Linked DNA regions of Homo sapiens: all the other regions are linked to region 2. Evidence: fine-mapped expression QTL. A gene starts in region 2. Each other region holds a variant in brackets. All regions are shown on one strand. Distances are between the middles of the regions.

Region 1 (8,179 bases), 110 kb before region 2:
GGGAAACTTGAGAAAGATATTTTTCTCTGAGATCAGAGCTGTGCTCCACAGCCAAAGTTAAGGTGAGCCCTGCAATTGTCAGCCAGTAAGCATCTATTATGCTCCCAGTACACACCTGGCCTTGTATTTGGAATTAGAGGTCACCTCCGAGTTTACCTAAGCTCTTCTAGAAAAACAGATCCACCATTATACATTTAAATTATCCAGTCTGCTATGTGGCTTTTCCTGTCCTGCTTCTTGTGACGTAAGGGATTCTGTCTTTGAAACAAGGGGGCCAGAGATGTACTGTGATCCATAAATTCAACTCGGGATCAAACAAGATACTCAGGACCCTGGGATCTTGGCCAGGACGTGCCCTAACTTGCTTCATGTACAATGGGCTGTCATGTCACTGTTCTCTCAAAAACTCCAGACGGGAAGTAAGGGTTGTGACTAATTTCAAAGGGCACAGCGGGGAGCCACACTGCCTGGAAAGCAGGCTGCAGGCATTGCCTCCCGGGGAGTTTGATTCTGAGTTTTATTCTAACATGATCAAAGCAGTAGTTGGGGTGGGGAGCATTCTGAAAAGGAGGCATCAGATTAGGACTATCTGAATTTAAATTCTATTTCTACTTGGGAAAATATGCATTTAAATCATTGACAGCTTCAAAATTCTAATGATTCTGTGAACTATTGGAATTAGTAAGAGACTCATCAAACCAAGAGTAATTAAATGACCAGCTGTGGGCAGTGTGGGACTTCAGACAAAGCAGAGAGAGGTCTGTGTGAGGAGGCACAAGCTTGGCCCTCTGTGGGGCGGGGTGGGTGGTGATTTTGGTCAGGAAAATACACCAGCAGCAAAGGCACCACTGCCAGTCCACACGTGGGCTCTTAGTCTTGAGCCCCTCCACATTGATTTCTTTCCCTTACTGTACCTATGTTAAGGCACGGAAGTTTTCACCATGGGCATGTTTAGGTGAAGCCCGCTGTCCACAATGACCTGGGCAGGTGGGAGGCTCTCCAGGGACCCTTCTCTATTTGCCTAGGCATTTGGCTCTCTCCTGCCTCTATCACAGGTAGACCGGCCTCTTAGACTAAGCCACTGGACAGCTTGGGGAAAATGGGGCCTCTCTGATGGCTTTTTTCTTTAGGATAAGTTTCAAGTGCTCTAACAGAGACTCACAAGAATCGTGGCTTAAACAAGATAGATGTCTATTGCTCTGTCTCCCAGTCGTCCAGGCAAATAGTAAGTCAAGGCTGGAATGGCAGCTGCACAGGATCTAAGACCCTGGTTCCTCTTTTCCAGTTGCTCTGCCATCTCTACGGTGCTGCCCTTGTTGGCATTCTCCAAACTGGCTTCCCCGTCCCCACAATGTTCTAGGCAACAGGATGGAGGATGGGATAGAAAAAGATCACACCCCTTCCTGTTAAGGATATGATCTAGAAGTTACATCCAATGATTTCACTCACAGTCTTTTGGCCAGAACTGAGTGTGTTACCACACCCAGAGACAGGGGCATCTAGGAAATAGAGTCTTGATCCTAGGCCACCCAAATGCAAATCCTATCACTATCAAAGGAGGAATGGATGGATATTGGGGCTCCACCAGGCAGTAACCACTACCCATAGCACCTCACTTAAAACAACACATCACATCATTTTCAAGCAGTGTACAAAGAATGGCCCAAGATAATGATAGTATTGAAAAACCACCTTTGCAAAAATTATAACAGTGAGAAAATTATGACAGTGAAAGAGATCTGATCTAACCAATCCCCATCTTGTCTTTAACCTCCAAACTGCCTTGGTCATTCCTGGGCTTGGGCCAAGCTAACTTGGGGAGTTACAAACTTTAGTTTACAGTTTAAATGATAATAGTCCTTCCCCAAAACTGAACTGCCTTTGTAAAATGAATAAAGGACCACCCGGTTAGGAGGATGAGAGAAGCCTGAATTCTGCTAAGATGTAGGTGTGAACAATTACCAGCCATTATTCTGTAGGTCACAAGATTTGCAACTTCCCCAGTTACTCCTGAGGATAACATCCCTCTTTTTTTTTTTTTTTTTTTTTTGAGACGGAGTCTTGCTCTGTCGCCCAGGCTGAAGTGCAGTGGCGGGATCTCGGCTCACTGCAAGCTCCGCCTCCCGGGTTCACGCCATTCTCCTGCCTCAGCCTCCCAAGTAGCTGGGACTACAGGCGCCCGCCACTACGCCCGGCTAATTTTTTGTATTTTTAGTAGAGACGGGGTTTCACCGTTTTAGCCGGGATGGTCTCGATCTCCTGACCTCGTGATCCGCCCACCTCGGCCTCCCAAAGTGCTGGGATTACAGGCGTGAGCCACCGCGCCCGGCACATCCCTCTTAAAGAACCTAAAATTGGTCTTTGGAGATGTCCTTTCAGGATTTTGCATTTCTCATGACCAGATGACCGGACCTTGACTCTTGGCCCAACCAGTCCTGCGGACCCACCCAGAAGCAGACTTAGTGCACAAGGACCATTTTCCACATCCCTATGATTGCATCCCCAACCAATCAGCCGCATCTGTTCCCCTCGCCCCCTGCCAGCCAAGTAACCCTTGAAAAACCTAGCCTCAGAATTTTCCGGGAGGTCGACTTGAGTAATATCTTCATCTCCCACATGGTGTGGCCAGCCTCATGTCAATTAAACTCTTTCTTTATTGCAATGCCATGGTGTCATTGAATTGGTTTTGTCTGTGCCGTCGGCAGGAAGAACCCATCAGGTGATTACAATATCATTATCAGAAACAAGAGGAATGGGGAGGGGAGCCAGCAACTGAAATTGGATGATTCATTTCAGAATGCTAAATGGACCTCTGAAGGGACATTGGCTTGGAGATCTGGCACTTTAGCTCAGGGGAGAAGTCAGATTTGGAAACCAAGGTGGCAGGCATGATGGGAGAGAGCAGGGATGCCCTCCAACAGTGAGAGGATGTGGCTTATCTGGGACTGTCACAGTACTGTGGCTATTATCTGAAACTGTCTCCCCAAAGACACTGTAAATCCTGCTCTCCAGTAGTATTCCATGTTCTGAATGGCACTAGTGTTTAACCTTGGGTGAAAACGTGTTCCTTTTTCCTATCAAGTCCGTATTTGAAGACTTGATTGGCAATGACTGCTCCTAACTAGGCAAGCTGGCACCTTCTTGATGTCAGTCCCTTTTAGCGAATGTGTACACACTGGTAGGGGGCAGAGGGGAAAAGACAGGAAAAAGAAAAGTGCTGAGAATTCCAGGTCACCCACTGCAGCACAAGCTGGCTACCTTTTCTCTGGCAGTTGTTGTTAAGAGCATTTTCCAGCACCCTGAAGTTTTCATCCCCCATTGTTCAGCCACCCATTTCTAAAGAGTTAGCATAATAAGTGGGATCAGGGGTTAGGTGGACTGGGCACCAGCACCTTAACCCTGGGGGTAGAGATAGATTTCTGGCTTTTAGGAGTGAAGTTGATTTTAGAGTATAAAATGCTGCCCCCACCCCATTCCAGGGCTGCTGGGTGTAAAAGGAAAAGAAATCTTGGGACCCCAAAATCACTAAGCCAAAGGGAAAAGTCAAGCTGGGAGCTGCTTAGGGCAAACCTGCCTCCCATTCTACTCCTGAAAATGATAGCTACTAAGATCTTTTTTAAAAGCTACAAACCTCCCTCACAAGGCATTTCCTTACGGACAAAGGACAGACAGAACTCGAAGTCATCCCTCTGCTCACTGAGATAAATGCATATCTGATTGCCTCCTTTGGAAAGGCTAATCAGAAACTCAAAAGAATGCAACCATTTTGTCTCTTATCTACCTATAACCTGGAAGCCCCCTCCTCACTTCGAGTTGTCCGGCCTTCCCGTACAGAACCAATGACGGAGTGGGAAGATGATCTTCCCCTGGAATTTGGACATCCAGTGGCCAAACTCCTCTTCGACTGCCCCGCAGCCGAATACCTCTCAGTGCTCAGACATTCTCCTCTTTCTCTGCCGTGCCTTTCTGCCATTCGTCTGCTTGTCTCCTTGTCTCCTTGTCTGCTTCTGGAGCCTGGGGTTTGGGGTTTATATGGGTACAGGATGGCCAAAAGGCAACCTTTTGGGTGTGAAAACAGGAATCCCTGTCCTCCTTTAGGGTCACGGGTATCTGGGCTTCAGGGTGGGGGCCTTTGCCGGAGAACCGCCCTCTTCTACCCAGTGTTTCCCTGTCTCCTGTCCGTATCACCAGCAGATGGTGCCTACTTTTTTAAAGCCATCATCTTATCTTCTAGCTGTACCTATTTTTTTAAATATATGTTTTATTTCAACAGCTTTTGGGATACAAGTGGTTTTTGGTTACATGGATGAATTGTCTAGTGGTGAAGTCTGAGATTTTGCTACACTCTTCACCCGAGTGACCCCAGTAGTGTACATTGTATCTAATATGTAGTTTTTTTATCCTTTATCCCCTCCCACCCTGTATCTATTTTTAATTGCTTTGTGAACTAAGGCAAATGTGATAAAGAGGCATCTGATGTACCTGCTTCTAGCATACAAGAAAACATATTTCTTGAGCATGCTGTTACATGCTTGACACTTTATATACACTATTTCATTTAACATCCCAACAATCCTAAAACCTGGGTTTTGTTATTGAAGAACCCAAGGCTCTGAGAGTTAACTAACTTGCCCAAGGTCACACAGTTAGCAAGTTGTGTGGGCAGGATATAAGCCCAGTCTGGCTGCAAAGCTATGTTCTTTACACTGTAACTTACTCCTGAAGGAAGGAGGCTTAAAAATAATCCATGCAGAATTTGTATCAGCTTGATATGTGTGC[CTTATTA/C]TTATTATTATTATTATTATTTTGAGACGGAGTCTTACTCTGTTGCCCAGGCTGGAGTGCAGGGGCGTAATCTCGGCTCACTGCAACCTCCACCTCCTGGGTTCAAGCCATTCTCCTGTCTCAGCCTCCTGAGTAGCTGGGATTATGGGCGCCCACCACCATGCCTGGCTAATTTTTGTATTTTTAGTAGAGACAAGGTTTCACCGGGTTGGCCAGGCTGGTCTTGAACTCCTGACCTCAGGCGATCTGCCCACCTTGGCCTCCCAAAGTGCTGGGATTACAGGCATGAGCCACCACACCTGGATTGCCATATTATTTTAATAGAATAGGATAGGACAAAACTTAGAAGGTATTGGATACCATTTTCCCTGTTGAAGGAGTATTGGTAAGACACCGTCAAAGAGAAATGCACCGCGTACACACGAAGAGGAACCATTTGTAGGTGGTACATAAAAGGGTAAAAAATAGGCCGGGCGCGGTGGCTCACGCCTGTAATCCCAGCACTTTGGGAGGCCGAGGTGGGCAGATCACAAGGTCAGGAGTTTGAGACCAGCCTGGCCAACATGGTGAAACCCTGGCTCTACTACAAATACAAAAATTAGCTGGACGTGGTGGTGCATGCCTGTAGTTCCAGCTACTCAGGAGGCTAAGGCGGGAGAATCGCTTGAATTGGGGAGGCGGAGGTTGCAGTGAGCTGAGATCGCACCACTGCACTCCAGCTTGGAGGAAAGAGTGAGACTCCTTCTCAAAACAAAAAAAAAAAAAGGTTAAAAAATAATTATAAAAGGAATATACCCAGAGTTTTTTTATTAGAAAGTGTTGTATAAAATCTTGAAAGTAGAATAGTTCTATAAAATGTATTATCTATAGATCAGTAAGAGAAGATATAAAAAGACATATTTTTAAAACTAAACAAAATGAAAATGGAAAAGCAACATTAATATTATATGTGGTGTCAAATTAGCTTATTAAAAGAAATATAAAATCTAAAATCATATTAACTTATTAAAAGAAATATAAAACCTAACAGAAAAACTAAAATTAGAGGACAGAAATACCATATGTCAGTGGAGTTTAAAGCAACTGGAGCTGTGATACACCGCTGATTGGAGTGTAAATTTTTTTGTTGTTTCCTTGAGAAACTATTTGACGTTACCTACTCAAACTAAACATACACCTATACTCTGACCCAATAATCCCACCCCTAGGTAAATACTCAAAACAAAATGAATGCATGTGTCCACGGAAGGACACACACCTGCGCATTCACACCAAGTGTATTTACAATAGTCAAAAACCAAAATAAGTCAATTACCTGTTAACCATAGGTAGATATTTTCGGTCTCTTGGCTTTTAAAGCCTTCCATGATTTCCTATTGTTTTCTGACCAATTTTATTTCTTGTTCCTATTACCTAAAAGCTCACAGTTCCAAACAGGTGAGATTCCTTGGTCCCCACTGGATGTGACAAGGAAATATGTTAGGGACTCTGCACATTCGGGCAGCTGGGTCAAAGGATGGACAAACCTTGAGGGTTAGAGAATTAATTGCCCTGGGAAGGTCTCTGCAGGTTTATCTGCCTGGAGCGAGGTGTTTACCTTTCAAAGAGTAATAAAACCTGGATCCATTCACTTTGGTTTTGAATGGCCAAAACAATCCAGGGATTGTTAAGTGCTGTGACTTAAGAAAGGAAGCAGCCAATTCACAAAAGAGTGAATAAACATATACAAATGTCCAAGCTCACCAATACAGAAAAAAAAAAAAAACACAGCTCAATAACATTTTTCATTTATCAGTCTGGCAAAGAGTTTCAAAATTTTTTAACAGCCAGTGGTGGAAAGGCGCAGGTGAGCCTTCTCACACACGGGGATGGAAGTTACTTTGGAAATAAGTTAAACGCTTTAACTCACACACACCCATTGTTCGTTTTTGGAATTATCCAAAGGAAATATAGTGGATCCATGCAAAGACAGCAATTTCAAGAGGCTCATCACAGGGTTATTTTTGATAGAAAAACCTAACAGTCCAACAATAGGATGCTGGTTAAATAAGGTATGATATACCCATCCATTCTGAAATGCTGTAAAAAAAAAAAAAAAAAAAGTATTTAATGGCATGAAAAATGTTCACAACCCATTGTTTAATGAAGAACAAATTATAAACAATATGCAAAGTGTGTGAATATATAGGTACTGTACATGTGCACACATATGTGTAATGTCAAAGACAGAATTACAACAAATTTTGTTATAGATCTCATTGACTTTTATTGGCGATGAATCAGGGCAGCCTCCATTCTACAAAATAGAATGAGAGCTTCCACCAGGCAATGGCAGAACCGTGGGTTTTGTAAGGTAGAAACAAGGAATAGAACAGTAGGAAAAAACTGATTAGTTAACATCAGGTTACTTCAGGTTGCTTTTGTAATAAGGGTTAAAGCAGAGGGGACTTCCTTATATACTGCTGACTCAGGAAGGCTGGAATCTCCTGTTTGCAGGAAAACTTGGTCTGTTTTGGAAATCTATCTGCTTCTTTAAAGTTTTAGTCTGATTATGTGGCATTTAGCATGAGCAACTTCATTTTGATTTGGTCTGGTCTATTGGAGCCTAGTGCAGGAACTCAGTCTAAGACAATGGCCTCTCATAATTTTTGTTTAATGATAGAAAAACACTGGAAGCCTATATTACCAAACTGGTGGGAATATGGGATATTTAAATTTTCTTCCTTCTGCTTATCTATGTTTTCTAAGTTTTCAAAAATGAATACTCATTACTGCTGGATTAAGAAAAAGAATAAACATTATTATATTTAATAACACAAAGGAGCAAACTGAGAACTGGATGCAGCTTGGTAGTTGCCCGGGCAGGACACTGTCCCAAGCTAAGCTCCTCCCCAACATCCCTCAGGCCCAGAGCCAGCCCTTCCTCCTCCCGAGCGCCCTGCCCTGGGATTCTCAGACCTTGAAAGCCACAAGTCTTGAAAGTCTCTGAAGGAAGAGACAGGGAGCAAATGGAGTTTCTGATGCTTCTCCCAGGCAGGTGGGATCATGATGCAGGATTTTTCTTGGCCCCTTTGTGGGACTCACAATGGTGGATCCCCATCTACTTGGCCCACTGTACTCAGCCCCTTGCAAGAGGGAGCACATGAGCAAGCAAGTGCAGGATCCAGCTGGCCGCTCCAGGCACTAGCAGGAGCAAGCTCCATGCAGGGCCCATGGCCAGACCAGGCATGAGTAAATGAGTGTGGGATCCAGCTGGCTGCTCTGGGTGCCAGCAGGAGCAAGCTCCATGTGGGGCCTGTGGCAGCGCCTAGGTGGGGGCACCCACAACCCCAAAACCCCAGAGGGAGTGTTACAGTGCTCTCTTAGTTCCCCCATCTGCAGACAGTTATGTGTT
Region 2 (8,179 bases):
ATAAACCTATTACTGGAGTAGAAGCAAAAAACAAAAACAAAATAAGCAAACAAAAAAGTGGAACAATTATCAATTTCAGGAAAACCATAAATTTTAACAAAAAAATGTAATCAGAATATATTACATGGCTCACCTGCAAATATCTACACAGCCATAATTCAAACACAGAACAGAGATTAAACAAAGCAATCATATAGTTAATATTGTGGGGATATGGAGAAGAGGAAATGGGTGTTGGTATGTGTCTGGGGGTAGAATAGGGAAGGCAGAGCTAAGATCCTGAGCTAAATCTTCATCTCCCATAATGGGAAGTCAGTAGATAATGTTCACAATCAAAAAGCCAACAGATAAGATTAAATAAAAAGAGGGTGGCCAATGCTGAAAGGAAAGCGAAACTGAGTGAAAGGAGCAAGGGGCATGGGTGGGAAATGGGGCAGGATCATGTTTTTTTCATTTTAAGCAAAATGTTTTAAATTACTGCACATGTAAACTTTGCTAAAAATAAAATCTAACCTAAAAAGAAAACGTGACTATGAAGTAAGGAATCGGAGACAGTCTAGACCACTCTTCATAGCATATTGGCTATGGGAGGAAAAGAATCTCACGGTTCACAAGCACTTCCACCCCCAAACCCCAACACACACACACACACACACACACACACACACACACAGAATTTCCTAACAGCTTTTTAGTATCCATCCCTTAAATAAGAATGAGAAACGAAGGATCATTAGACATTTGAGAAAAGTGCCTAACATGAAAATAGAGAATTACCAGCAAAAAGAAACAAAGAGGCAGAAGTGAAAGATTGTGCTGAAGAAACACAGAAAGAGAAGAAAACAAACGAAAAATTCTAATATATATCCTCAGTAAGATAAAACCCTACATGCATCAATCAGGAACCAGATACTGTGTTGTAAAAAGAAATAAAAAGGGACGGAAAGGAGGGAGGTAAGGGAGGGAATAAATGGCAGCCCAGAAAACAATTCAAGAGCTCTTACATTTAAAAGAAAAATAGGATCCCTCAAATGGAAAATGTAATAAGAGATTTAGAAGATACAGCTGAGAGTATCACCCAGAAAACAAAACAATAAAAGATGAAAATCTGTCAAGAAAAAACTTAGAAAATTAGAGGATAAAATGATAAAGTCTAATATCCAACTAAGGACTTCAGAAAAAAAAGAAATGGGAAAAAAAAAAAAAACAGAAATAAGAAAATAATTCCAGAAAACTTCCGGGAATTAAAAACATGAGTTTGTCTATAAAGACCTGCCAAGTGCCCAGCAAAGCAAAGGAAAACAGATCTAGATCAAGGAAAAATGTCAGAACATAAAGGCCAAAGAGAAGACCGTGAAAGCTTCCTGAGGGCAACACATTACCTACAAAAGATCAAGATCAAGAATCATAACGAGGCAGGCTGTAACATCAGCAGTCATAACACATAAGGAGGAATGCCCCCAGAGTTTCTACGGACAACTGTTCCAACCTAGAATTCCATGCCCAGCCACACTCACCAAATTGTAAGGGTAGAATAAAGCTATCTCTTGGCATTCAAAGAAAGCTAACCTCTGAACCATCCTTTCTTGGGAATCTACTAGAAGATGTGCTCCACCAAGAAGGGGTAAACCAAGAAAGAAAATGACATGAAAGGCACACGACAGAGACTCAAACCCAAGAGAGAAGCCAAGAAAGGTCCTAGGAGGATGGCCAAGGGCCCTCCCAAGATGCCAGCCAGGCAGCAGCCCACAGGAGCAGCAGCCAGCCCAGACAGAAGTAGGTCAGGGGCCCTGGGAGAGGCATCTTAAGATGACAAGAGTGATAGTGAACCTGATGTGTTGGTTGTATTGTGAAAGAAAAAAGGGAATCATGGGAAATAGTATGGGTCAGCTTTGAGTAACTTTTTCCATGGGCACAATACGGTACATACTAATTATGAATCCAACAAACTCTATGAGGACTGTATTGTGCAGGTGTGGAGATGGGCCGTGTGTGTGTGGGTGAGGAGAGCAGTAAAAAAGAATTAAAGTCAATAGATAATGTTAAAAACTGAAAAAAAACAATCACATGTCAATAAAAGCCATGTTACTTGGAGATACAGAAATAAATACCAAAGGAAAAACCAGGGTGTTATGTATGGCATAGGGCTGATGTGCTTTTGTAATAAGTCAGACAGAACTACGTGATTCTATGTGCATCTATGGCTTCAGGGAAAGTAAAAAATTTTATATTTTATAGAAACTCAAAAGAGTGCTCATTGCACTAGTATTTAAAACCATCCACTTAAAAACCAGGATATTTAATCTTGTGCAAGCAACACAGGAGTCAAGAGGGCCTTACGGGTAGGAGCAAAACAAAAGATGCTGCGATTGAGTCCTGAAAGCAGAAAACATCCTTTCTTCTTCCTGATGCCTAAACCAGAAACGTTAGCAGGGAAGAAATAACTGAGAGGACGCTATATTTAAGGAAACCAAAATAATCATGAACTCAGAGCTTACCTGAGCTGGTAAATACAGGCACCATCCATATCACAACGCTGCCTAAAAATTGTATTTATATTGCATGCAAATATTTGACAACTCCATCACAAACAATAAAAGATCGGGGAGAGAAAAGCCATTTAGCCTGATAAAGTACATCTCAATTTAGCTAGCAGATCAGTACCCACAGGAATAATCTGGAAGGCATGTTCCCTACCCCCTCCACCTTCTGTTATTTGCATTTCTAGCAGTGATCACTGAAGCATCAGGATTTGTGGGGATTCACAAGTAACATCATGATGGGAGGAGGCAGCCCTGCCTCCGATGATGAGCTGAAAATAGCTGAAGATGGTAAAACCAAGAGCAAAGCAACCCGGCTCATAGCCGAAATTTCATCTCCTCCTCAGCCTCTCACAGAGAAGCCAGGAAGAGTCTGATTGGCTTGCAATCGGGTAAACAAAAATAAACACATAAATGAATAAAGTCACTGATCCTGAGCTTCCGTTTTTTCATCTATAAAACTGAGATTAGGGCCGGGCATGGTGGCTCACTCCTGTAATCCCAACACTTTGGGAGGCCGAGGCGGGCGGATCACGAGGTGAGGAGTTTGAGACCAGCCTGACCAACATGGTGAAACCCCGTCTCCACTAAAAATACAAAAATTAGCCGGGCGTGGTGGCGCGTGCCTGTAATCCCAGCTACTCGGGAGGCTGAGGCAGGAGAATGACGTGAATCCGGGAGGCAGAGGTTGCAGTGAGCCGAGATCGCGCCACTGCGCTCCAGCCTGGGCCACAGAGCGAGACTCCGTCTCAAAAAAAAAAAAAAAAAAAGATTACAACATGGTCTCTTTTGGGATTGTTTTGAATATTAAATGACAACATACATATTCCCAGATCAGTGACTGAATGTCTAACAGGCTCCCAATACATTTTCCATGTTTTCCTCACTCGAGCCTTTTTAAAATCCAGTGATCTGGAAGGAACCATTGGTTACTCCAGGCTGTACTGAGGCGTTCAACTGGGTCCCCAGCCCTGCAAGCCTCTGGGCAGGAAAGAAGGTGAAGGGGCCATGCCTTGAAAACACGCGCAGCGCCACCGGCGCTTTCGGATCTGGACAGGCGAGGGAGGATGGGGAGGGACGGAAGGGGAGAGGCCCTAGCACTTATAAAGATGCTCTCACAGCCAAGTTATTCAACACTCCACGTAAACAAATGCAAAATATTCTTTAGGGACAGCGTAGCGAGGTCGGGGAGTTAATACGGAAAACAATGGCCCCATTCATCAGACAAAGCTTAGCTCTGTGGTTCTTAACCTTTTGGGTTACCTTTGAGAATCTGATTAAAGCTGGGGCTCCTCTGATCAAAAATGGGCGCCTAGAAATAAGCAGATGGGACTCAGTGGTTCGCCAAGAAATAAGATGGGATTCAGAGGTTTGCCAAGCCGCAGAGGCCCGCGAGGAAAGACCCCAGACTCAGCCAGCGGCGCTTCAATTGAGTTCACCGCTGGCTCGACCGAAAGCCACCTAATTAAGGAAATAAAGGGTGGCAAAGGCTGCCACCTTCCCTATTTTGTCAAGAGAGACGGATTCTGTCAACCGAAAAAAAAAAAAGGAAGAGCCAGCCCCGAGTGGCGCAAGAAATAAGAGATCAGCTGCTCAGAGCTTAGAGCAAACCGTCCCTGCGTGCAGGCCCCTCGCGCTCCCCTCCGGGCCGGGTACCTGGCAGAGCCGCGTCCTCCGCGTCCTCGGCCTCCGCGTCCCCGGCCTCCGCGTCCTGCTCCTCCGGGGCCCCGCGCGCCCGCCGTTCCGCCTCCTCCTGGGTCGCCGGCTCTACGGGCGGCGGGGGCGAGGGCGGGGCGCACCGGGGTGCGGGGCCCCCGGCGCCCGACGACTCTGACGACGCCGAGTCCTCCGAGGAGCCGGCCGGGCCCCAGTCGTCCCAGAGCCAGGGCGCGTGCGCCTGCTCCAGCAGCCGGCGGCCTAGGCGGTAGTGCAGCAGCTCGCGGTAGCACGGCCCGTACTCCTCCCAGCGCGGCTCCTGGTAGCGCTTCATGTACTCGCTCTTCACCCCGCTCCCCGGGGACATGGTGCCGTCCGCCGCCTCGAGCGCCAGCCGCTCCTCGCTGCCCGCAGCCTACGGGACCCGGTACACGACACAGAGGCCGCCCCGCCCCTCCGCCGGCCCTGCCCGCCGCGACGTTTAAACCCGGAGCCCCGCCCGGACGGGAGCAGGGGGCGGGTCCCGGCGAGGGCGGGGAGGGGGCGGGGCGGGGGCGGCCTCACCCGGCGGCCGGGACCAAGAGCAGAGGCGGGGACCGGGGCTGCTGGGGTCGAGGGGCGCGCCGCCGAGGAGGGCTGCTCAGTGGGCGGAAGGCAGGGAGGCTGCGGGCTGGGGCGAGGGGACCGCAGGAGACTGGGGCTGAGCGGGAGGAGGAGCGAGGGAGGGGAGCGGCGGGGCCCGTGATCGGGTGGTCCTGGGGTCTCCGGAGGCGTCCCCTGAGCTAGGCGTGCGGTCCCGCGGGGCTGCCTTACCTCCTTCCCGCCGCGCCCGGCCGATCCTCTGCGCCCAGGCCCGAGGCGCGCGTGGCGCAGCAGCTAAAGCGCAGCTCGCTCTCCCGCGCGCTTTCCTCCTGAGCAAGATGTCGCCGCGGCGGCCCGCGCTCCAGCTGCAGGCGGGAGGCGGTGGCGCCGCCTCAGTCCCGGAGCCTCCACGCGCGCTCCCGGCCCCCGGGCCTCCGCCCGCTCCGTGGGGGCGGCTGCTTCCGTAGAGAGCGCGAGGCGCGGGGGTGCGGGCGTGCCTGCCAGTCCGAGGGGCCCAGGCCCAGGTCCCTGGCCCACTTATTTGAGGTGCCCGTCCACCCTGGTCCCAGCAGACGCTGTCCCAGGCACGCGTCACTCTGCAGGAGTCGTCAGTTAGGGGCAAGAGATGATCCCTCCAGATATGCAGCCCCCCCAGGCTGCGGCCGGGGGCGACACTCTCTGTCCTCACTCGAAACCTACCGGTTCTTCCTCTCTGTGTTCACAACACCTGTTACTCTGGCTTTAACTCCCTTTTATATCTACACTCCCCAAATTCTTTTAGATTTTGATCAAAACCATTTCACTCGCTCAGAGATTCGTTTGCACATAAAAGCTTGACAGATTAACTTACGTTGTGCAGAAGTATACAAAGTTGTCCCATTTGTTACAGTTTCAAAAGTGGCCCCACACTCTTTTCCCTTTTTACACATAAAACCTTCACAGATCCAGTTACTTTGTGCAGAAGTATACAACGTTGCCCCATTTGTTACAGTTTCAAAAGTGGCCCCGCACTGTTTTCCCTTTTTGCTCATAAAACCTCCACAGATCCGGCTGAGCGCTGTGGCTCACGCCTGTAATCCCAGCATTTTGGGAGGCCGAGGCGGGTGGCTCACGAGGTCAGGAGATCGAGACCATCCTGGCTAACACAGTGAAACCCCATCTCTACTAAAAAAATAAAAATAAAAAGAATTAGCCCGGCGTGGTGGTGAACGGCTGTAGTCCCAGCTACTCGGGAGCCTGAGGCAGGAGAATGGCGTGAACCCGGGAGGCGGAGCTTGCAGTGAGCCTAGATTGCGCCACTGCACTCCAGCCTGGGCGACAGAGCAAGACTCCGTCTCAAAAAAAATAAAAAATAAAAAATAAAAACCTTCACAGATCCAGTTACATTGTACAGAAGAATACAACGTTGCCCCATTTGTTACAGTTTCAGAAGTGGTCCTGCACTATTTTCCCTTTCTTAAAAAAAGAGCCTTGATACAGTAGCTGCAAAAAGATTTGAAAGGAAAAAACTTTTGGAAAATCTAAATATATATATAGCAGTTAAAAAGCAAGCCCAGGCCGTGAGTAGCGCTCACGGCTTCCACGTCAGGATTCCCACGAATTCACCTACTTTCTACGTGTCCGCATCCTGCCTCCCACCACCACCGCCCACCTCATCATAGCTAAATGATTCAGAGGCGGCTACTGGCCCAAATGGGGCGGGTCAGACCGTCTGCTCTGAAAACTTGAAGTTACTAGTCCAATCATTAGCACGGGATTGTGTTAATGGCAGTTTTCTGGACGGAAACTCCAGGATACCCTGCTGCTAATGAGTCCGCGGACGCCATGATTTCTCCCCTTCCCAACTTTATTTTCTGTTCCTTGACTTACATTAGGGACATTCTAATGCACTTTCCTTTTGTTTAAGCTGGCTGGGGTTGGTTTCTGATGTTTGCAACCAAAGTAGCCTTAATAAAGATTGAATAAGGTGGGGAAATGGTTATATGTAGTTCTATGGGACATGCAGGACACCATCGGTTTCAGCTTTTGCTGCATAATTCACTCCAAAACTCAGTGGTTTAAAACAGCTAAGATTTATTATTTCTTATGATTCTGAGGGTTAGCTGGGCAGTTCCTCCGCAGTTGGATTCTGATGGAGAGACAGCAGGGCTGGAAGTTTCAAGATGACCTCCTGATATAGTTGGGATAATTCCTCCAAATCTGAAGTTGAAATTGATCCCCAATGTTGGAGGTGGGGCCTAGTGGGAAGTGTGTGGGTCATGGGGGCAGATCCCTCATGCATGGCTTGGTGCCATTCTTCAGTAACGAGTGAGTTCTCACTCTTTTAGTTTGCATGAGAGCTTGTTGTTCAAAAAGAGCCTGGCATGTCCTCCTCTCTCTCTCTCACTCCCTTTCTCTCTCCATGTGACATGACAGCTCCCCTTCCCCTTCCACCATGATTGGAAGCTCCCTGAGGCCTCACCAGAAGCAGATGCTGACACTGTGCTTCCTGTATAGCCTGCAGAACCATGAGCCAAATAAACCTGTTTTATTTATAAATTACCCAGCCTCCGGTATTCCTTTATAACAGCACAAAACAAACTAGTACACCTCCCTTACATAACTGGCAGTGGGGTGGGCTGTGGGCTGGGCCGTCTTGGTCACATCCTCCAGAAGCCTGGACTGGCATCTCAAGGTCATATACATCTCCTGCTGCATTCTCACGTTCAAAGAAATCACAAGGCTAAGAGTCAAGGGAGAGAAATGAACTTCCCTTCTGCATAAGAGGAGCAGCAAATTCACATTCCAAAAGGGATTGCATACCGGGTGAAGGAATTTGCGGGCATATTTTACAATCTTCAACACAACACACACACACACACACACACACAAATATAAGGGCACTCTGGGAGGCCAAGGCAGGCGGATCACCTGAGGTCAGGAGTTCAAGACCAACCTGGCCAACATGGCGAAACCTCATTTTTACTAAAAATACAAAAATTAGCTGGACTTGGTGGTGCATGCTTGTAGTCCCAGCTACTCCGGAGGCTGACAGGAGAATTACTTGAACCTGAGAGGCAGAGGTAAGCTGAGATCATACCACTGCACTCTAACCTGAGCGACTGCACCCTATTTACAAGAGAGGCTTGCAAATATCTGGCTTTTCTAGGTTCTACACTGGCATGGGAATTCATAAAAAGTGTCAAGTAGATAGCGGATGTCTCCTGAGTATGTTTGTATTTGGAAGGGGCAGTCGGGGGCTGGGGACGGGGGGAGAGAGAGGGAGAGAGAACAGCACCATCCAGAGACAAATGGGAAGGAGAGGGCAGTGGATGGAAGGAGCACTGTGTGGGAGGAGTGGGTACAGAGCACGTGAATTGGGGAGGAGTCAGGAGGAGTGGGTACACAGCATGTGAGTTGGA
Region 3 (8,179 bases), 77 kb after region 2:
AACCGCAGCTGCCAGGCGTTCCTCCAGAACCTCCTCCCACAGGAGCTTGCTACATGTGCCGGAAATCTGGCCACCGGGCCAAGGAATGCCCACAGCCCGGGATTCCTCCTAAGCCATGTCCCATCTGTGTGGGACCCCACTGAAAATCAGACTGTTCAACTAACCTGGCAGCCAGTTCCAGAGCCCCTGGAACTCTGGCCCAAGGCTCTCTGACTGACTCCTTCCCAGATCTTCTCGGCTTAGCAGCTGAAGACTGACACTGCCCGATCGCCTCGGAAGCCTACAGGACCGTCACAGATGCTCTAGGTAACTCTCGCAGTAGAGGATAAGTCCATCCCCTTCTTAATACGGAGGCCACCCACTCCACATTACCTTCTTTTCAAGGGCCTGTTTCCCTTGCCTCCATAACTATTGTGGGTATTGACGGCCAGGCTTCTAAACCTCTTAAAACTCCTCAACTCTAGTGCCAACTTAGACAACATTCTTTTATGCACTCTCTTTTAGTTATCCCCACCTGCCCAGCTCCCTTATTAGGCCAAGACATTTTAACTAAATTATCTGCTTCCCTATTCCTGGACTACAGCCGCATCTCATTGCCAGCCTTCTCCCAAACCCAAAGCCTCCTTTGCATCTTCCTCTTGTATCCCCCCACCTTAACCACAAGTATGGGACATCTCTACTCCTTCCCTGGCAACCGATCACATGCCCATTACCATCCCATTAAAACCTAATCACCCTTACCCCGCTCAACGCCAATATCCCATCCCACAGCACACTTTAAAAGGATTAAAGCCTGTTATCACTCGCCTGCTACAGCATAGGCTTCTAAAACCTATGAACTCCCCTTACAATTTCCCCATTTCACCTGTCCTAAAACTAGACAAGGCTTACAGGCTGATTCAAGATCTGCGACTTATCAACCAAATTATTTTGCCTATCCACCCCATGGTGCCGAACCCATATACTCTCCTATCCTCAGTACCTCCCTCCACAGCCCATTATTCTGTTCTAGATCTCAAACATGCTTTCTTTACTATTCCTTTGCACCCTTCATCCCAGCCTCTCTTCACTTTCACTTGGACTAATCCTGACACCCATCAGGCTCAGCAAATTACCTGGGCTGTACTGCTGCAAGGCTTCACAGACATCCCCCATTACTTCAGTCAAGCCCAAATTTCAACCTCATCTGTTACCTATCTCGGCATAATTCTCATAAAAACACTCGTGCTCTCCCTGCTGATCGTGTCCGGCTAATCTCCCAAACCCCAATCCTTTCTACAAAACAACAACTCCTTTCCTTCCTAGGCATGGTTAGTGCGGTCAGAATTCTTACACAAGAGCCAGGACCGCACCCTGTAGGCTTTCTGTCGAAACAACTTGACCTTACTGTTTTAGCCTCGCCCTCATGTCTGCTTGCAGTGGCTGCCACTGCTTTAATACTTTTAGAGGCCCTCAAAATCACAAACTATGCTCAACTCACTCTCTACAGTTCTCATAACTTCCAAAATCTATTTTCTTCCTCACACCTGATGCATACACTTTCTGCTCCTCAGCTCCTTCAGCTGTACTCACTCTTTGTTAAGTCCCACAATTACCATTGTTCCTGGCCCAGACTTCAATCCGGCCTCCCACATTATTCCAGATACCACACCTGACCCTCATGACTGCATCTCTCTGATCCACCTGACGTTCACCCCATATCCCCACGTTTCCTTCTTTCCTGTTTCTCACCCTGATCACATTTGGTTTATTGATGGCAGTTCCACCAGGCCTAATCGCCACTCACCAGCAAAGGCAGGCTACGCTATAGTATCTTCCACATTTATCATTGAGGCTACTGCTCTGCCCCCCTCCACTATCTCTCAGAAAGCCGAACTAGTTGCCTTAACTCAAGCCCTCACTCTTGCAAAAAGACTATGCGTCAATATCTATACTGATTCTAAATATGCCTTTCATATTCTGCACCACCATGTGGTCACATGGGCTGAAAGAGGTTTCCTCACTACGCAAGGGTCCTCCATCATTAATGCCTCTAATAAAAACTCTGCTCAAGGCCGCTTCACTTCCAAAGGAAGCTGGAGTCATTCACTGCAAAGGCCATCAAAAGGCATCAGATCCCATTGCTCTAGGCAACGCTTATGCTGATAAGGTGGCTAGACAAGCAGCTAGCTCTCCACCTTCTGTCCCTTACAGCCAGTTTTTCTCCTTCACATCAGTCATTCCCACCTACTCCCCTGCTGAAACTTCCACCTATCAATCTCTTCCCACACAAGGCAAATGGTTCTTAGACCAAGGAAAATATCTCCTTGCAGCCTCACAGTCCCATTCTATTCTGTTGTCATTTCATAACCTCTTCCATGTAGGTTACAAGCCGCTAGCCCGTCTCTTAGAACCTCTCATTTCCTTTCCATCCTGGAAATCTATCCTCAAGGAAATCACTTCTCAGTGTTCCATCTGCTATTCTACTGCCCCTCAGGGATTGTTCAGGCCTCCTCCCTTCCCTACACATCAAGCTCGGGGATTTGCCCCTGCCCAGGACTGGCAAATTGACTTTACTCACATGCCCCGAGTCAGGAAACTAAAATATCTCCTAGTCTAGGTAGACACTTTCACTGGATAGGTAGAGGCCTTTCCTACAGGGTCTGAGAAGTCCACCGCGGTCATTTCTTCCCTTCTGTCAGACATAATTCCTCGGTTTGGCCTTCCCACCTCTATACAGTCAGATAGCAGACCGGCCTTTATTAGTCAAATCAGCCAAGCATTTTTTTCAGGCTCTTAGTATTCAGTGAAACCTTTATATCCCTTACGGTCCTCAGTCTTCAGGAAAGGTAGAACAGACTAATAGTCTTTTAAAAACACACCTCACCAAGCTCAGCCACCAACTTAAAAAGGACTGGACAATACTTTTACCACTTTCCCTTCTCAGAATTCAAGCCTGTCCTCAGAATGCTACAAGGTACAGCCCATTTGAGCTCCTGTATAGATGCTCCTTTTTATTAGGCCCCAGTCTCATTCCAGACACCAGACCAACTTGGACGGTGCTCCAAAAAAATTGTCATCCCTACTATCTTCTGTCTAGTCATAATCCTATTCACCGTTCTCAGCTACTCACACATGCCCTGCTTTTGTTTACACTGCCGGTTTATACTGTTTCTCCAAGCCATCACAGCTGATATGGATGCTATCCCCAAACTGCCACTCTTAAGTCTTAAAGTAAATAATCTTTGCTGGCAGGACTATGCTGAACCTCCTTAGGCACTCTCTAATTAGATGTCCTGGGTCCTCCCAATTCTTAGACCTTTAATACCTGTTTTTCTCCTTCTCTTATTCTGTTTAGTTTTTCAATTCATACAAAACTGTATCCAGGCCATCACCAATAATTCTAAATGACAAATGTTTCTTCTAACAACCCCACAATGTCACCCCTTACCACAAAATCTTCCTTCAGCTTAATCTCTCCCACTCTAGGTTCCCACGCCGCCCCTAATCCCACTTGAAGCAGCCCTGAGAAACATCGCCCATTCTCTCTCCATACCACCCCCCAAAAATTTTCGCCGCCCTAACACTTCAACACTATTTTGCTTTATTTTTCTTATTAATATAAGAAGGCAGGAATGTCAGGCCTCTGAGCCCAAGCCAAGCCATCACACCCCCGGTGACTTGCACATATACACCCAGATGGCCTGAAGTAACTGAAGAATCACAAAAGAAGTCAAAATGCCCTGCCCTACCTTAACTGATGACATT[C/G]CACCACAAAAGAAGTGAAAATGGCCGGTCCTTGCCTTAAGTGATGACATTACCTTGTAAAAGTCCTTTTCCTGGCTCATTCTGGCTCAAAAAGCTCCCCTACTGAGCACCTTATGACCCCCACTCCTGCCCGCCAGAGAACAACCCCCCTTTTGACTGTAATTTTCCTTTACCTGCCCAAATCCTATAAAACGGCCCCACCCTTAATTCCCTTTGTTTTCTTTTCGGACTCAGCCCACCTGCACCCAGGTGAAATAAACAGCTTTGTTGCTCACACAAAGCCTGTTTGGTGGTCTCTTCACAAGGCGCATGAAACTCCCACCTCAGCCTCCTGAGTAGCTGGGATTACAGGCACCCACCACCACACCTGGCTAATTTTTGTATCTTTAAGAGAGATGGGCAGGGCGCAGTGGCTTACGTCTGTAATCCCTTCACTTTGGGAGGTCAAGGAGGGCGGATCACAAGGTCAGGTGGCCGGAAGCAACTGAAGATCCACAAAAGAAGTGAAAATAGCCTTAACTGATGACATTCCACCATTGTGATTTGTTTCTGCCCCACCCTAACTGATCAATGTACTTTGTAATCTCCCCCACCCGTAAGAAAGTTCTTTGTAATTCTCCTCACCCTTGAGAATGTACTTAGTGAGATCCACCCCCTGCCCACAAAACATTGCTCCTAACTCCACCGCCTATCCCCAAACCTATAAGAACTAATGATAATCCACCACCCTTTGCTGACTCTCTTTTTGGACTCAGTCCCCCTGCACCTAAGTGAAATAAACAGCTTTGTTGCCCACACAAAGCCTGTTTGGTGATCTCTTCACACGGACACGTGAGACAGAGACCAGCCTGGCCAACATGGTGAAACTCCATCTCTACTAAAAATACAAAAATTGGCGGGGTGTGGTAGTGCATGCCTGTAATCCCAGCTACTCAGGAGGCTGAGGCAGGAGAATTACTTGAACCCGGGAGGTGGAGGTTGCAGTGAGCCGAGATGGTGCCACTGCACTCCAGCCTGGGTGACAGAGCGAGATTCTGTCTCAAAAAAAAAAAAAAGAGAGAGAGAGAGAGAGAGAGAGAGATGGGGTTTTACCATGTTGGCCAGGCTGGTCTCAAACTTCTGACCTCAGGTGATGCACCCACCTTGGCCTCCCAAAGTGCTGGGATTACAGGCCTGAGCCACTGCACCCAGCCCATGTTGCTGTTTGATCAATATCTGCCTCTCAGCTAGACTGCCAGCTCCCTGAGGGCCGAGACACTGATTTGTAGGTGCTCAGCAAGTGTCGGTTGAATAAATTAGTGAATTAATTGAGGATTGGAGGGGGTGCCAATAAGCAGGGCAATAGCAGGGGAGGGGGTTCTGGATCCGTTTGGAAAATAAGCTGAAGAATAATGTCAACTTGATTTTAGATGTCTTAATTTCTCAGACTGAGGAGCAGCACAGCTCCCTCCCATGTAGTCCCATAACCAGGAAAGTGCATGGAGGAAAAAGGACACAGACACTTCCCTGGCTGGGGGGCCACAGTGCCTGTGCTCTCCTGTAGCCTGGAACAATTCGCTTTGCCTCATGGTGCCCGGGGCTGCCCCTTGGAAAAAATACAGCCACCCAGTGCAGGGCTGGGACTGGGTGTGGGAAGTGAGGCACATCCTCTGTGCTGGTGGTACAAGTGCAAGTGCAGATTCTGGGGCCTCTCACCTCATCCTCATCCCAGCCTGAACCAGTGTTTGCCTTGCCCATGTCGGGAAGAGATCCCATGATAATTTCAGAGATGCTGAGTTTCCTGGCTTAAAAATTCCTGGTCTCCAGTGCCAGCGTGGTGTGGGAAAACACATGCAGCTCCCCCATCCCCCAAACCTGGGAGAATGACCCTGGTAGGTTCCGCCCCAGGGCACCTGGAGATCTGAGCATGGAGGTCTTCCGGGAGCCTCACTGTACCTGCATGGTCCTGCTTCCACCTGCCTGCCTTGCACTGAGCACTAGAGGCTGAAACAAACATTAGCAGAAAATCCAGATTCTAGAAACAGATGACATGCGCCCTGAGATGACGCCCTAACATGCGCCCTGACACGCGCCCAGGGATGACAGGCATCCTTTTGAAGCATTTACTTGAGAAGAAGTTCAAGTAGGGTTAAGTTATTCCATATAACTATATTCCATATCGCACGTCTCCGTTCCTGCAATGGTAGCGATACTCCATAAATATGTGTTGATGAATGGACAAAACTAAAGGGAGGGAAGAAAGTGGGGGAGAATCTTGAGCTCTGTAGCTTTGGAAGGAGAAAGAATACAGTGGAACCTTTTCTGAAGCTCTCAAGGAACGTGTCCTTGGAAAAATGTGACTCTCCCCCTTCTCCTAGCTTGCTCCCTCATCCTGCAGAAAAGCCGCTCCTCCCTCTTCCATGGCAGAATGGTATTGGCAGGGGAAACCTAATGTGCTAGGCAGAGCTGGGAATAGAACTCAGTCTCCTGAATTCCATATATTCTCTTTCCACCGATGTCTGCTAAGTGCATCCAGAATTGCTCTGGTGGACGGGGCAGGTCAATGAAAGCAGCAACTTGAGCTCCTTCCAGCAGGTGCCGCCTTGCATCACCTATGATCCCATGTGTCATTCACGTGTATGATTGTATATGATCCTCTGATCCCCTGCCCAGCCCAAGCCTCTAAGCTCCTCCATCTGTCGCAGGAGCCTGGCCTGTGGTCATCAGCAGGATTGTGAATGGATCCGCCCAAACTTGTCCTACTGGAAAGAGAATTCTGGTCTGCTGGACGAGTAGATCCTTTCTTTTCTGTTTAATTATTCATTTGTGCCATTTGATTTAATATTCTTAATGTTAACATAACGCGTATTTGTTGAAAAAATAATATTGGTGGAAACATTGAGGTACAAAAAGGTCAGGAAGAAAAATCCCCCCTCTTCCACCCCCGGAAGCTGTCATGATGATTTCTCACTTTGGCCTACTCTCTTCGTCCCCTTCGCCCTTCATTCTTTTCTTTTCTTTTTTTTTTTTTTTTTGTATTCATGGTTCAACTGATCCCTGTTGACACATGGCACGTTAGCTTTGGGTTGCGAGGGCTCCAGGCATCTCGGCCTCCCAGCTGGTGGCCTGTCATCCTGGGAAAATTTTCAGATTCGGTGCATTTTTAGGCCCAGGAAAAAGGCAACAGCTTTAAAATAAGGCATCAGAATTTGGGACAAACTTTCCGAAGCCTACATGTGAGATTTGAGATGTTTTTCAGGGGCGGCTAAAGACAAAGCTGGTAAGTAGGGTATGTTGAGGTCTATTTTTAGGGAATATGGTGGGCTAAGTTCTTGGGATTAACACTCCTATTGAAACCAACTAAAAATGCTTGATAGAACGTTATTTTTTCTTGAGACAGGGTCTTTTTTTTTTTTTTTTTTTTTTTTTTTTGAGATGGAGTCTCGCTCTGTCACCCAGGCTGGAGTGCAGTGGCGCGATCTCGGCTCACTGCAAGCTCCACCTCCCAGGTTCTCGCCATTCTCCTGCCTCAACCTCCCGAGTAGCTGGGACTACAGGCGCCCGCCACCACGCCCCGCTAATTTTTTTGTATTTTTTTAAGTGGAGACGGGGTTTCACCATGTTAGCCAGGATGGTCTCAATCTCCTGACCTCGTGATCCGCCCTCCTCGGCCTCCCAAAGTGCTGGGATTACAGGCTTGAGCCACCGCGTCCGGCTGAGACAGGATCTTATTCTGCTGCCCAGGCTGGAGTGAAGTGGTGCAATCTCGGCTCACTGCAGCCTCCACCTCCCAGGCTCAAATGACTCTCCCTCCTTAGCTTCCTGAGTAGCTGGGACTTCAGGTGCACGCCATTACCCCTGCTAATTAAAAAAAAAAATTTTTCGGTGGGGTTGGGAGCAAGGGGAGGGAGAGCATTAGGACAAATAGCTAATGCATGCGGTGCTTAAAACCTAGATGACGGGTTGATAGGTGCAGCAAACCATCATGGCACATGTATACCTATGTAACAAACCTGCATGTTCTGCACATGTAAAATGTGCAGAACTTAAAGTAAAATAAAAAATAATATTTTTTTTGTAGAGACAGGGTCTCACTATCTTGCCCAGGCTGGTCTTGAACTCCTGGGCTCAAGTGATCCTCCTGCCTCAGTCTCCCAAAGTGCTGGGATTACAGGCATAAGCCACCATGCCTGGCCTAAGATTTTTTTTAATCTTCTTATGAACACTGAAGAATTAACGGGTGGTAAAGAATTACTAAGCCAGAGTGTGGCATGATGGCATGTGCCTGTAGTGGCAGCTACTCAGGAGGCTGAGGCAGGAGGATCGTTTGAGCCCAGGAGTTCAAGATCAGCCTGGGCAACATAGTGAGACCCTGTCTCTAAAAAATAATAAATAAATAAATATTTTTTTAAAATTCAGACCAAAAAAAGAATTAGCCAAAATTTAAGAAAAG

Which allele goes with the higher level. Positions count from the first base shown, and alleles are read on the strand shown. Sizes are in standard deviations (SD) of each study's normalised expression. Not every link is listed here.
For the expression in iPS cells of the gene that starts at base 5,145 in region 2, G is the high allele of the variant in region 3 and C is the other (large effect, 1.4 SD a copy in PhLiPS).

Evidence for each region. PIP is the estimated chance that this variant, and not a neighbour inherited with it, causes the effect. A credible set is the group of variants that fine-mapping cannot tell apart.
Region 1: its variant is the best candidate, but not a certain one, in a credible set for the expression of CCSAP in naive CD4 T cells (Schmiedel 2018, PIP 0.60).
Region 3: its variant is the best candidate, but not a certain one, in a credible set for the expression of CCSAP in iPS cells (PhLiPS, PIP 0.62).

Annotation. Positions count from the first base shown.
Region 1 is chr1:229,231,168-229,239,346 of GRCh38, forward strand. No RefSeq gene overlaps it. Among named protein-coding and RNA genes, the nearest start is that of TMEM78, 14 kb to the right of the region's middle. The variant CTTATTA/C (reference allele first, on the strand shown) is at 4,780.
Region 2 is chr1:229,337,903-229,346,081 of GRCh38, forward strand. It overlaps CCSAP (centriole, cilia and spindle associated protein), which reads right to left and starts at 5,145. Exons shown (of 4, transcript NM_145257.5): 1 at 5,010-5,145; 2 at 4,197-4,611. The coding sequence starts at 4,563. RefSeq lists silencers at 4,194-4,393, 4,594-5,453, 6,300-6,594.
Region 3 is chr1:229,414,606-229,422,784 of GRCh38, forward strand. No RefSeq gene overlaps it. Among named protein-coding and RNA genes, the nearest start is that of ACTA1, 15 kb to the right of the region's middle. RefSeq lists enhancers at 103-603, 1,866-2,367, 2,999-3,754, 3,755-4,508. The variant C/G (reference allele first, on the strand shown) is at 3,748.